Linked DNA regions of Homo sapiens: region 1 is reported to be linked to region 2. Evidence: microRNA targets listed by miRTarBase, many of them from high-throughput screens and not tested one by one. Region 2 holds a microRNA gene; the other region holds the end of a gene's coding sequence.
Evidence for each region. Region 2 holds the annotated microRNA hsa-miR-4306 (UGGAGAGAAAGGCAGUA, at 2,359-2,375, shown strand). A microRNA usually pairs through its seed, bases 2 to 8, with sites in the 3' UTR of a target mRNA and lowers its output. Matches are read on the target gene's strand: a 7mer-m8 pairs with bases 2 to 8, a 7mer-A1 pairs with bases 2 to 7 and ends in A, and an 8mer does both.

Region 1: miRTarBase lists ZFYVE27 as a target of hsa-miR-4306. Seed matches in the 3' UTR shown: 8mer at 2,595-2,602 and 7mer-m8 at 1,652-1,658.

The regions. Positions count from the first base shown.
Region 1 is chr10:97,758,641-97,762,042 of GRCh38, reverse strand. It overlaps ZFYVE27 (zinc finger FYVE-type containing 27), which reads right to left. Exons shown (of 13, transcript NM_001385875.1): 13 at 1,148-2,807. The coding sequence ends at 2,743. Among named protein-coding and RNA genes, the nearest start is that of SFRP5, 12 kb to the left of the region's middle. RefSeq lists an enhancer at 1,504-2,003 and a silencer at 2,476-2,525.
Region 2 is chr13:99,640,765-99,644,166 of GRCh38, forward strand. It overlaps MIR4306 (microRNA 4306), which reads left to right and starts at 2,295; the gene lies at 2,295-2,385. All of the region lies in intron 1 of CLYBL (citramalyl-CoA lyase), which reads left to right.

The DNA.
Region 1 (3,402 bases), not on the chromosome of region 2:
CCCTCTAGCATCCCCTTCTCGGAGGCTGTTACCCAAGGATGGAAACTCATGCTTCTCCCATCTCTGTAATCCATGCCTGCAGGCACAGACTTCAAGTTACTGCTGTTATGGTTGAGATTTCACCAACATTTGGCATTTTCATTTTCCAAAAATAAAATGCATTGACTGCTTTTCCAAACTACACTTGTGCCTCTCTGATACTCTTCTCTGAAGAATCATCTAAAATTACACTCTGGTTTAAAAAAAATAAATCACTGTTCTAAGCCACCCAGGACAGAGCTGTTTGTCCTCTGAAGGTGGCCAGGATGACAGGAGCCAGCGTGTCCAGCATGCCAGGCACCGGGCCCCATGCCTCCCGTCGACTCTCTCATTTCTCTCACAGCACCCGCACAAGCTATGCATCACCATCAGGTGCACTTTCCAGAGGAGGAAAGCACAGTGAGCCTGGGGGCAGCATCCCTATGCCAATGGGCCCCAGCACCGCTCCAACAGATGGTAAAGGGGTCCAAGCATGGAGGTGGGCCACAGCAGGCGCCAGGCACCACCCTCTACTGCTGCAGGGACTCTGCTCCTACTTCAGGGGAACAGTGCCTACCTCAGAGTTGCTGTGAGCAATAAATGAGATACTGCACGCAAAGCCCTCACCAGTGCCCAGCACCCAGCCACCCACCACCCACCTGCCCCAGCTCAGGGCATGGCTTGCACTTCCCATCTCATGTCCAATCCTCTTTCCTGCTGCTCTCAGCCTCCCTGAAGGCTGACCCTTTCTGGCTTTCTCAGAGGGATTAGTTAAAATCTTTCCGTTGTAAAGCCTGCATTGTTTGGGGTTTACCAAGTTCTAGTCCCAACCCCAACCCCCAGTGCTGGGCCCTCACAATTGGGTCACAAGACTGGGCCTCAAGTCAATCCGACAAGCATTTGCTGAGCCTCTCCTGCGTGCAAGGCACAGCTTTCCTCCTCTTGGCCCCCAGCTCATACCCAGACCAGGCTGCAGCCCCCACGCCCCTGCCACCATGGTGCCCCAAAGGCCCGCCCCTCAGCCTGGTCCTGCAGGAATTGCCCAGGCCTGCAAAACTCCAGCAGTGCCAGAGAGATCTGGTCTTCCAGCCTCAGGGAAAATGCCAACACAAAGACATGACAAAAACAAGAAGCTTGAGGCCTTTTTATTGACAATTCTCCATAGACACAGAGATCCTTTTAGTTCCTCTCCAGTGTAAAGAAAGCACGGGGTACTGAACTCTCCTCTCTTAAAAGGACACAGAGGCGATACGATACCAAAGCCTGTCTGGCTCCCCAGGGCTGTGGCACCTCCACTGGCCTGGGTAAGCCCCTGGCTGCACAGCCCCAGCTAAGCTGCTTGGCTCGGCAAGAAAGCGGGCCTAGGATGGGTCCCTTGCCTCCCCAGCCTGCCTCTCTGGACCCCTGCTCCTCGAGTGTAGAAACCTCTCAGCCCCCTCATGGGTCCTGGGTCCCAGGCAGCCCATGACTCCAGGGAAGAGTCCTAGGTAGAAGACCCCCACCCCCAATTCCTCCTCATCCCATTACTTGTGCCACATGTTCCCAGGAACCATGCAATAAATAAATAAATACTTGAGAAAGGCAGGGCAGCTCCAGGGAAGGGAAGGGATGCCTGAGCCAGCTCATGGCTAAGGGAGAGATACTGAGCCCGTAAGAGTCCAGTAGTGAACATGAAACTGTTGGAAAGAAATGGAGACCCCCAGGGGGCCTTATCCCATAACTGAGACTGTCCTCCAGGGAATAGCCCTGGAATCCAGGACCCAGCCCAGCGAGATCCTACACTACCCAGGCCCCCAGGGGTCAAGGGCTTCAGGACCTCTGCTCCACTCACCTGGCCTCCCACTCCATTGGACAAGAGGCAGGGAAAGGAAACTGGAGTGCTGGGCCAGTGGAGGACTGCCCTAGACTCTGGACAGAGGGTGCAGAAGTTGTGATCCAAGTGCCCTGCAGCTGCTCCAGCGGAGCTGGGGACACTGGGGCATTGTGTGGGCTGAGAGTCTGTGAATTGAGGTGTCTTCGAGGGGAGGCCGAGGTCTGTCCAGCTATTGGGGCTTCCCCAAGCTTTCCTCCACTTAACGCTGAAGGACTCAGCCAAACCCTCCTATACACATTCTCCTCTCAGGGAATCTGGGAACTTCAACCCTGTTTCTAGAAGCACCCATGGTCTTGTTAGGCCTGGCCACACCCTCTGATGGGGAAATGATGAGATCCTGGTGCCTGGAGGGACATTCAATCAGCAGAGATGGGGTGTGGCACTCCCAAGCCCTTCTGCAGGCTCTCTGAGGCTGAGGGCCTGGCCCAGTACCCTGCAGGAGAAAAACCTCTTTTCCCAACCTCAGGTCTGGAATTCCCAGGCACAGCCACACTGACCCTGATCTTCAGACCCCAGTCAGGCCTGGCCTAGTTCGCTGCTGCCCTCTGGTGGCTACTGCCTGCCCAGCCCTAAGTCCACTCGCTCAGTCCCAGGCAGAGCAGGACAAACATGCCAGGCCCTCCAGGGGCTCTTCTCCCTCAAGGGATTGAGAGCAGCCATTGCCAGCCACTCTCATGGATGGAGAACAGCTCCAGAATCCAGCTGGAGAGAGTGAGGAAGGAAGGGGAAGCCTACCTAGCATTCAGGCCACATTTGCCCAGCACACACCACAGTGGGCCAGGGGTGGGGAGAGTGGGGGGTCTACTGCTGGTCCCAAGGACGGGTGCCTGGTTGGACCCTGGCCTCTCTTCTCACTTGCTCAAGGTCTGGTTACACGAGGCACACACAAACACAGTCTCCCTCTGGGCTTCAGGGGCTGAAAAGGAGGAAGAACTTGGTGAGACATTTCCTTGCGCCCTTTGGTTCATGGCCCCAACTACTAGAAGCACCCTCCCAAATGCCCCACACAGACCCCCCACCCAGCCCACACCCTCCCTGCCCAGCTTGCTAGCCTGCCCGCAGAGATTCTTCTTTCCATGGGAACTGGGGATCCTGGGGGTGATGATGCCAACAGCAGGCCACTCCTGTGCTATGAATTAGACATTATTGTGGCACCAACAGAACACCTTCAAAAATTTTTAAATAAAATATTAAATACAAAAATTAGCCAGGCATGGTGATGCACGCCTGTAATCCCAGCTACTCAGGAGGCTGAAGCACAAGAATTGTTTGAACCCAAGAGGCGGAGGTTGCAGTGAGCCGAGATGGCGCCACTGCACTCCAGGCTGGGCGACAGAGCGAGACTCTGTCTCAAAAAAACAGAATAAGTAAAATATCACAGTGAAATTTCCCAAAATGTTTTAACAGTGGTTACCTCTGGGTGGTAAAATTACAGGGTTATTTTTCTCTTCCTTCGTCCTCTGTATAATAATTTCCAAATTTTCTAGTTAGTAAGCATATGTTACTTGCAT
Region 2 (3,402 bases):
AGTGCCCCTGCTCTTTTGTCTTACGACCAATAGGATTTTGACTGCTCAGGAAATTTGTATGCATGTACCCAGATATAGACCTAGGCACCTAAATGCACACGTGGATATATACGAATATATGGTGGACAGTGCAGATCCAAGCTACTCCTGCTAACACATTTCTGGAAAACATTCCCTTTATGGGAGGACTTAACAAAAAAATTAGTAGCTAGTTTTACTTTGGTTTACATATATTGTTTTTCTAATATAGAATTCTCATTAGTTGGTTTTATGAATCATATCACCAAATGAAAATTTGAAAAGTATGTAACAGTTTTCTATTGAGCGTTCTCTGAATATTCTTGCCTTCAGTCCTGCTGGGAGCCTTTTCTCAGATCACCAGTGCAAGCCTACAGTCATACATTGTTTGTAGTTGATACAACCTCAATGATATAAGTTTTTTGATGATTTTAAAATATGAGTAATTAATCATTTATAACCTATAGGTTAAAATGAATTATAAGTGGATGAAGGTGGGAACCCAAATGAATCAAAGCTATTTAAGTTTGGTATTGACATTGTGCATCTTCCCATTATTTATTATACCAAAAAAATCACTTTATTTCTTAAAAATAGTACAACACGGCCAGGTGCAGTGGCTCACGCCTGTAATCCCAGCACTTTGGGAGGCCGAGGTGGGTGGATCACGAGGTCAGGAGATCAAGACCATCCTGGCTAACACAGTGAAACCCCGTCTCTACTAGAAGTACAGAAAATTAGCCGGGCACGGTGGCAGGCACCTGTAATCTCAGCACTTTTGGGAAGCCAAGGTGGGCGGATCATGAGGTCAGGAGATCAAGACCATCCTGGCTAGCACGGTGAAACCCCATCTCTACTAAAAATACAAAAAAAAAAAAAATTAGCCAGGCATGGCAGCGTGCACCTGTAGTCCCAGCTACTTGGGAGGCTGAGGCAGGAGAATGGCGTGAACCCGGGAGGTGGAGCTTGCAGTGAGCTGAGATCGCACCACTGCACTCCAGCCTGGGTGACAGAGCGAGACTCCATCTTTAAAAAAAAAATAGTCCAACACAAGAAGGAAAGAAGGTACAGAAATGGAAAGTTAAGAATGAATCAGTGGAGTAAAACATTTCTGAGATTGGTGCATTTTCCTTTTGGAAATGTCATTCAAACCATATGAAATTAAATTTGGAAATAATGTTCTGCAGTCTCTTGAATGGGATTTAAAATATGACAATGCAGAAAACACATATGGGGATGAAAACCCATAGGACATGTCTCAAGGAGGACAGACACCCTGGGGAAGAACACTTGTGAGGGTACCAGGCTCTCAGACACAAGGAAAGAGGAATCTGAGGGATTGCTGGGAAGGATTCTCATCTTATGACCCCAGCTGTGGGTAGATTTGGCTGGGGAGCCCATTCTCATTGCAGGGGGCGGTGGCCTCAGCCCTGTGCATGCTGACTCTTCAGTGCTGTGCTCTGGCTGAGGCGTGCCTCTAGTGAGGGTGACCCTGGGCACCGAGCATATTCAGTCACCATCAGCCAAAGCTGGTTGTAGGAGGGCTGGCGGTGGTCTTGGGAATGTTGCTTGAATCCATCTTGGGGTGAAAATCAGAGTATTGGCTCATTTCTATTTTTTATGATTATTGTTATTATTATTATTATTATTGAGACAGGATCTTGCCCTGTTGCCCAGGCTGGAGTGCAGTGGCACGATCACAGCTCACTGCAGGTCACAGCTCCCAGGCTCAAGCAATCCTCCCACCTCAGCTTCCCGAGTAGCTAAGACTTCAGGTGTGTGCCACCTGGCCTGGCTCATTTTTTAATTTATTTTTGTAGAGATGAGGTCTCCCCATGTTGTCCAGGCTGGTCTCAAACTCCTGGGTTCAGGTGATCCTTCTGCCTCATTCTTCCCAAGTGCTGGGGTTACAGGCATGAGCCACCATGCCCAGCCTCTCCTTCCTGCCTGCCTGCTTCCCTCCCTCCCTCCCTTCCTCCGTTGCTCTTTTATTTTCTTTCCTTTTTTTTCCTGTTGCTCAGGCTGGAGTGCAGTAGTGCAATCTTGGCTCACTGCAGCCTTAACCTCCCAGGCTCAAACCATCCTCCCACCTCAGCCTCCCAACTAGCTACAGCTACAGGCATACACCACCACGCCTGGCTAATTTTTTATTTTTTGTAGAGCCAAGGTCTTACTATGTTGCGCAGGCTGCTCTCATTTCTAATACACTGAGCTCAACTGCTTGCTGGGTGAGGCCTGCATGAGGACTTTACTCATGGGCTCATAGAAGCCCTTTTAAGCTGCTTAGTGTCCTTAGAGTCTCCAGAGGCATCCCTAACCCAGAATCTTTTGACTGTCCTCTGGAGAGAAAGGCAGTAGGTCTGTACCAAGACCAAGGGGCTTGAAGGCTTGGACGCTCTGCTTCCACCTGCCTCTGGAGTGGCCAGAAGTAATGCCTGTTCTCATGACCAGCCAGTTTGCCTCACTGCTCCGGTGCCAAAGGCCAAGTTTTGATTGGAATGATGTCTGTATATTCTGAATAACCAGGAATTTTGTTTTTCTGATTTACAGATCTTCAGGCTTTTCATCAGCATGATTTGCCATCTCTGTCTTTGTCATCTAGGGTCTGTAATTATCCTCAGGTTTTCTGCCAATACCTGCATTTTCAACCAGTTAGAAAAAGAAGAGCTAAAACAGGTAGAAGCCTGAAACCAAGGGGCATATGCATTTCTGAAACATTTTCAAGAAATTGTCTCAATTTTATATTTCTGTTTATAATTATAATTTCAATGTCCAGTGGAGGAAGTTGTGAGACTCAATGTCAGTAGCTACCACTTACTATTCTGTGCGCCTCGGTTCAGATTGTTTGGGGCAGTGGTGTTTTATGTTGTGGGTCCAAACCCATGAGTCATCTGGGAAGTTAATTTATTAGGTCACAATGAGCGTTTTAAAAAATGAACCATAGGCCCGGCGCAGTGGCTCACGCCTGTAATCCCAGCACTTTGGGAGGCTGAGGCAGGTGGAGCATGAGGTCAGGAGTTGCAGACCAGCCTGACCAACATGGTGAAACCCCGTCTCCACTAAAAATACAAAAATTAACTGGGAGTGGTGGCGGCGCCTGTAATCCCAACTTTTCGGGAGGCTGAGGCAGGAGAATCGCTTGAACCCAGGAGGCGGAGGTTGCAGTGAATCCAGACTGCGCCATTGCACTCCAGCCTGGGCGACAGAACAAGACTCTGTCTCAAAAAAAAAAAAAAAAAAAAAAGAACTGTAACATAATAGGAAATATTCAATTCTGAGCCCATCACACATTTTGTCTTATGAAACTTTTGGTTTTTTATATGTGGTGTATGTATGTATATGTGGTGTATGTATGTATATGTGGTGTATGTATGTATATGTGGT